Linked DNA regions of Homo sapiens: region 1 is linked to region 2. The links come from fine-mapping of genetic effects on gene expression. A gene starts in region 2. The other region holds a variant in brackets. All regions are shown on one strand. Distances are between the middles of the regions.

Region 1 (2,500 bases), 50 kb before region 2:
TCTGCCCTGCTAGTGCTCAGAATCATGTCACGCCACCTAATCTGTCTTAGCATAGCTGGAGAGACACTAGCATTATTACTTTTCCACTCTTTTCCTATATTCTTTGTTAATAAAGCCATATAAACATGAAGTTTTTCTTTGTTTTTAAAGATGCTGGACTGCAGCCTTATCTGGATCAGATCAATGTCATTGAAGAGCAGGTAGCAGCTCTTGAGCAGGCAGCTTACAAGTTGGATGCATATTCAAAAAAACTGGGTAACCGTTTTTACTTCTGTTTTGATGTAATAAAGACTGCTTCTTGCCAGCATATTCTTAGTAAACATAATAGTTAACATTTATGGTGTGCCTACAGTGATCTATTAATCTTCACAAAACCTTAGTAATTTATTATTATATTAATAAAAATAACATTTCCTGATTACTTAATGATATATCAGGCACTGTTCTTAGTGCTTTACATGTATTATGTTTGGTTTTTGTTTTTGGTTTGTTTTTTTTGAGACAAGTTTCACTCTTGTTGCCCAAGCTGGAGTGCAATGGTGCGATCTCGGCTCACCGCAACCTCCGCCTCCTGGGTCTGGGTTCAAGCGATTCTCCTGCCTCAGCCCCCCGAGTAGCTGGGATTACAGGCGCGCCACCACGCCTGGCTAATTTTGTATTTTTAGTAGAGACAGGGTCTCTCATGTTGGTCAGGCTGGTCTCGATCTCCCAACCTCAAGTGATCTGCCCACCTCGGCCTGGCCTGTATTATGTTTTTTATCTTCCCAATAATCTGTGAGGTAAGTACATGATTTTTTTTTGTACTTTTAGTAGAGACGAGGTTTCACCATGTTGGCCAGGCTGGTCTTGAACTCCTGACCTCGTGATCCGCCCGCCTCAGCCTCCCAAAGTGCTGGGATTATAGGTGTGAGCCACCACATCTGGTTCAAGTACATGATTTTTATCCTCATTTTGTAGGCAAGGAAACTGGTTTAAGGGGATAAGTAAGTTGCTTAAGGACACTAAGCCAGTACAGGGAAGAGCCATATTTCTAAGCAGGTCTGTTTGCTTACAAAGCTCAAGTTCTTATTTGTAGTTGAGAAAGCAGAAGCACCTTTAATAATGTAGATAAATATGTCTTAAATGAATAGTCAGTTGAGGATTTTCTTGAAAGATCACTTTTCCTTTGAGGAAGAAACTAGTATTTTTAGTACTAGTGGTTTGCTAACTGGCTCTGGCTCTTACATACATGGTTAAAAGTAAAGAATTTAGTGGGTTTTTTGTTGTTGTTGTTTTGTTTTTTTTTTCTATAAGAGATGAGGTCTTGCTGTGTCACCCAGGCTAGGGTGCAATGACGTGATCATAGCTCGCTGTAGCCTTGAACTCCTGGGCTCTAGTGATCCTCCTTCCTCAGCCTCCTGAGTACCTGGGACTACAGGTGTGCACCATCACATCCAGCTACTTTAAAAAAATTGTTTTTGAAACAAGGCCTTGCTGTGTTGCCCAGGCTGGTCT[C/T]GAACTCATGGCCTTAAGCAATCCTCCCACCTCAGCCTCTCAAGTAGCTGGAATCACAGGCCTTTTTTTTTTTTTATTGATCATTCTTGGGTGTTTCTCACAGAGGGGGATTTGGCAGGGTCATAGGACACTAGTGGAGGGAAGGTCAGCAGACAAACAAGTGAACAAAGGTCTCTGGTTTTCCTAGGCAGAGTGTTTGTGTCCCTGGGTACTTGAGATTAGGGAGTGGTAATGACTCTTAACGAGCATGCTGCCTTCAAGCATCTGTTTAACAAAGCACATCTTGCACCGCCCTTAATCCATTTAACCCTGAGTGGACACAGCACATGTTTCAGAGAGCACAGGGTTGGGGGTAAGGTCATAGATCAACAGGATCCCAAGGCAGAAGAATTTTTCTTAGTACAGAACAAAATGAAAAGTCTCCCATGTCTACTTCTTTCTACACAGACACGGCAACCATCCGATTTCTCAATCTTTTCCCCACCTTGCCCCCTTTTCTATTCCAGAAAACCGCCATCGTCATCATGGCCCATTCTCAATGAGCTGTTGGGTACACCTCCCAGACGGGGTGGTGGCCGGGCAGAGGGGCTCCTCACTTCCCAGTAGGGGCGGCCGGGCAGAGGCGCCCCTCAGCTCCTGGACCGGGTGGCTGGCCAGGCGGGGGGCTGACCCCCCCACCTCCCTCCCGGACGGGGCGGCTGGCCGGGTAGGGGGCTGACCCCCCCACCTCCCTCCCAGACGGGGTGGCTGGCCGGGAGGGGGCGCTGACCGCCCCCCCACCTCCCTCCCGGACGGAGCGGCTGGCCCGGCGGGGGGCTGAGCCCCCCACCTCCCTCCCGGACGGGGCGGCTGGCCGGGCGGGGGGCTGATTCCCTCACCTCCCTCCCGGACAGGGCGGCTGGCCGGGCAGAGGGGCTCCTCACTTCCCAGTAGGGGCGGCCGGGCAGAGGCGCCCCTCACCTCCCGGACGGGGCGGCTGGCCAGGCGGGGGGCTGACCCCCCCACC
Region 2 (3,016 bases):
TCATACTGTTACAACAATCTGTACCACAATTCTCTGTGCGGTCTGCCCAGCTCTAAATGACATGTCCTCAGAGGCATCATCATCTCCAAGTCCATGGAAACCATGCACTTACAGAAACCAGAACCTCCCATACCACATGTTACTAATGACCTACAACATCGACTTCGTCTGTATCATGCAGTGCTCAACATTCTGGTTGCAGCATCACATTTATCAATAATTTGATTCCATGCTGATTCCTTTACTTGGAGTATTGAGATCCCCCAGGTACAGTGAAGGTATGACCCTCTTAAATGGAAGACCAGGAGTTGTTTCCCCTATGCTATGGCAATCCGCCACCCGGAAGCACTTGCTGCACCAACAGCATTCCCAAAGCTTGCCTCTGCAGCCCTGTAGCACCCATTAGAAACACTTCTCACAATGAACTACTGTGCTGGCAAACCCATAACTGGACTGCCGGACAGCAAGCTCTGTGAGGCATCTAGGAAAAAAGCTCGCGAAATCCCGAGAAACACTCTTCACTCCGGAATAGCGTCACATTCTTGAGTCATTTGGGATGACAGGGGATATCCTGGAGCAGGTGTATTGGGAAGTCAGTGAACAAGAAGGCTAATTCATTAGTGGGCCTGCTAGCGTAGTATTTTAACGATTTCGCAGCCTTTAAATCATTGGTGGTCTTTAGCGTGCCGGATCAGCTGGTGGTGGAGTTGGAGGATAGATGGCAGGGATCTGAAGAAAGGTGAAGTGTAGATAGGAGTAGAGACAATATGAAGTTTAGAAAAGACTAATTGCTGGACGCGGTGGCTCATGTCTATAATCCCAGCACTCTGGGATGCCAAGGTGGGAGGACTACTTGAGACCAGGAGTTCGGGACCAGCCTGGGCAACGTAGCAAGACCATGTCTCTACAAAAAATAAAAAATTAGCCAAGCGAGGTGGTGCGCGCCTGCAATCCCAGCTACTCGGGAGGTGAGAAGATCGCTTAATTCCGGGAGGTCGAGGCTGCAGTGAGCCGTGATCGTGCCATTGCACTCCAGCCTGGGCAACGGAGCGAGACCCCATCTTAATTAAAAAGAAAAAAATACAGGAGAGACTGGGCTGCTTTGAAAAGTGGATTTGACGGGAATGTGGGGTTTGGAGAGATCTTATGTTTTCCAAGACTAGAAAAACATTGTGGTTCCGTTCAGCCCTCCCGGAAAATACGTAGGGGACTTAAAGAGCGGACCGAGTACCTGTTTGTTTCCCCATCCCTTAGCCGGCAGGGCTCTGGCAGCGCCCTGGGAGAACTTAGGGAAGGGCCTTCTCGCAGCGGTTACCGGAAGTGACGCATTCATTCTCGCGAGAACAAAGACGCGCGAGCATCGGCGGCCCGGAACCGGCCTTGGAACAACTGTGGAACCTGAGGCCGCTTGCCCTCCCGCCCCATGGAGCGGCCCCCGGGGCTGCGGCCGGGCGCGGGCGGGCCCTGGGAGATGCGGGAGCGGCTGGGCACCGGCGGCTTCGGGAACGTCTGTCTGTACCAGCATCGGGTGAGGCGGGGCGTGAGAGGGAGCGGCGGTGGGTTGGAGCGGCGGTGGGTTTGAGCGTCTGTGGAACACAGGGCTGACAGTGTGGGATAGATGGTTGGTGGGACCTTGGGCAGTATTTGGGGGCCAGTGGGCTTGTGTGTGTGTATTAGAGAGAAAGATACTATGCCTGTGTGTCCAAAGTTGTATTTGAGGTACTGGGCATAGATAGAGCTGTTGCGGGGAACTTGGGTATGACTGTCAGGCTGTGACCAGGTGTTTAGTGAGTGTGACAGTGCGTGTGTGTCTCTGTGAATGTGGAGTGTCAGGGTGTGTGAGGCAGATGCACGTCACAGTGTGTATGTAGGAGCACGAATGTGTGAGAAGAGGGCTGAAGGGGACTGCCTTTGGGAATGTGTGCGTCCGTGTGTGTGTGTGTGTGTGTGTGTGTGTGTGTGCGCGCGCGCGCGCGCGCTTGGAGGCCATATGATATCAGTGGGGACTGGAGTAGACAAGGAAGGCTTCATGATGGGTCCAGAGTTAAGCCTTTGGAAGCATGGATGGGCTTTGGAATTGGGGATGTATTCCAGGTCGGGACAGTATGAGGGTGAGTTGGTGCAGAGCATGGCTTCAAACGAAAGGCTATATTAGTAGATGGAGATGGGGGGCGCTCTAGTAGGTGGAGGACAGTTAACATCAGACTCAAGAATTTTACTTTGATTTAATAGAGAATGTTTAACCATTGTAGTAGCAGTTAAAAAATCATATTTGGGTCTTGTTTGTTTGTTTTTGTTTTTGAGACGGAGTCTCACTCTGTCGCCCAGGCTGGAATGCAGGGCGCGATCTCGGCTCACTGCAGCCTCCTCCTCCCGAGTTCAAGCGATTCTCCTGCCACAGCCTCCTGAGTAGCTGGGATTACAGGCGCCCGCCACCGTGCCTGGCTAATTTTTTTGTATTTTTAGTAGAGACGGGGTTTCACCATGTTGGCCAGGCTGGTCTCGAACTCCTGACCTCAGGCGATCCACCTGTCTCAGGCTCCCAAAGTGCAGAGATTATAGGCGTGAGCCACGGCACCAGGCCTGGGACATGTATTTTTTGATATACCGATAAAAGCTGTGAACCCTTTCCCCAGAAAAATGCACAGATGCACATTCACACAACCATGCATTGCCATTTGAGAGGTTCGTGCCTTCCTAAAGGACATTTTAGGTAAATAGACCCTGGACTAATAATTCCTGTAATATAGGCTTTGTTTTGTTGCCTGTAAAGTAAGTATAGTATAATAATTACATGCATCATGGATTTGAGAGTTAAATAAAATAGTAATGTGTGTAAAGCTAAATACGGTACCTGACCCATGAAAGCCCTCAACTGTTAGCACCTGCTGCTACTTTGTTGTTGTTGCTGCTATGATCATAATGCTCCTCATTAATTGGCCTTAAGGAAATGTCAAGATAAAAAGTGTTGTTCTAGGAAAATGGTTTTGTAAAGGATAAATTTGAGTGGAACAAC

Which allele goes with the higher level. Alleles are on the strand shown, and positions count from the first base shown. SD is a standard deviation of normalised expression in the study named.
As copies of T replace C in region 1, the expression in thyroid of the gene that starts at base 1,296 in region 2 goes up (small effect, 0.29 SD a copy in GTEx).

What was found. PIP is the estimated chance that this variant, and not a neighbour inherited with it, causes the effect. A credible set is the group of variants that fine-mapping cannot tell apart.
Region 1: its variant is the best candidate, but not a certain one, in a credible set for the expression of CHUK-DT in thyroid (GTEx, PIP 0.56).

Annotation. Positions count from the first base shown.
Region 1 is chr10:100,277,879-100,280,378 of GRCh38, reverse strand. BLOC1S2 (biogenesis of lysosomal organelles complex 1 subunit 2) reads left to right here. Exons shown (of 5, transcript NM_173809.5): 4 at 151-255. Among named protein-coding and RNA genes, the nearest start is that of BLOC1S2, 7.6 kb to the left of the region's middle. The variant C/T (reference allele first, on the strand shown) is at 1,495.
Region 2 is chr10:100,227,940-100,230,955 of GRCh38, reverse strand. CHUK-DT (CHUK divergent transcript) reads right to left here and starts at 1,296. Exons shown (of 4, transcript NR_186419.1): 1 at 1,232-1,296. It overlaps CHUK (component of inhibitor of nuclear factor kappa B kinase complex), which reads left to right and starts at 1,360. Exons shown (of 21, transcript NM_001278.5): 1 at 1,360-1,528. The coding sequence starts at 1,424. RefSeq lists silencers at 51-313, 1,383-1,622 and an enhancer at 1,223-1,272.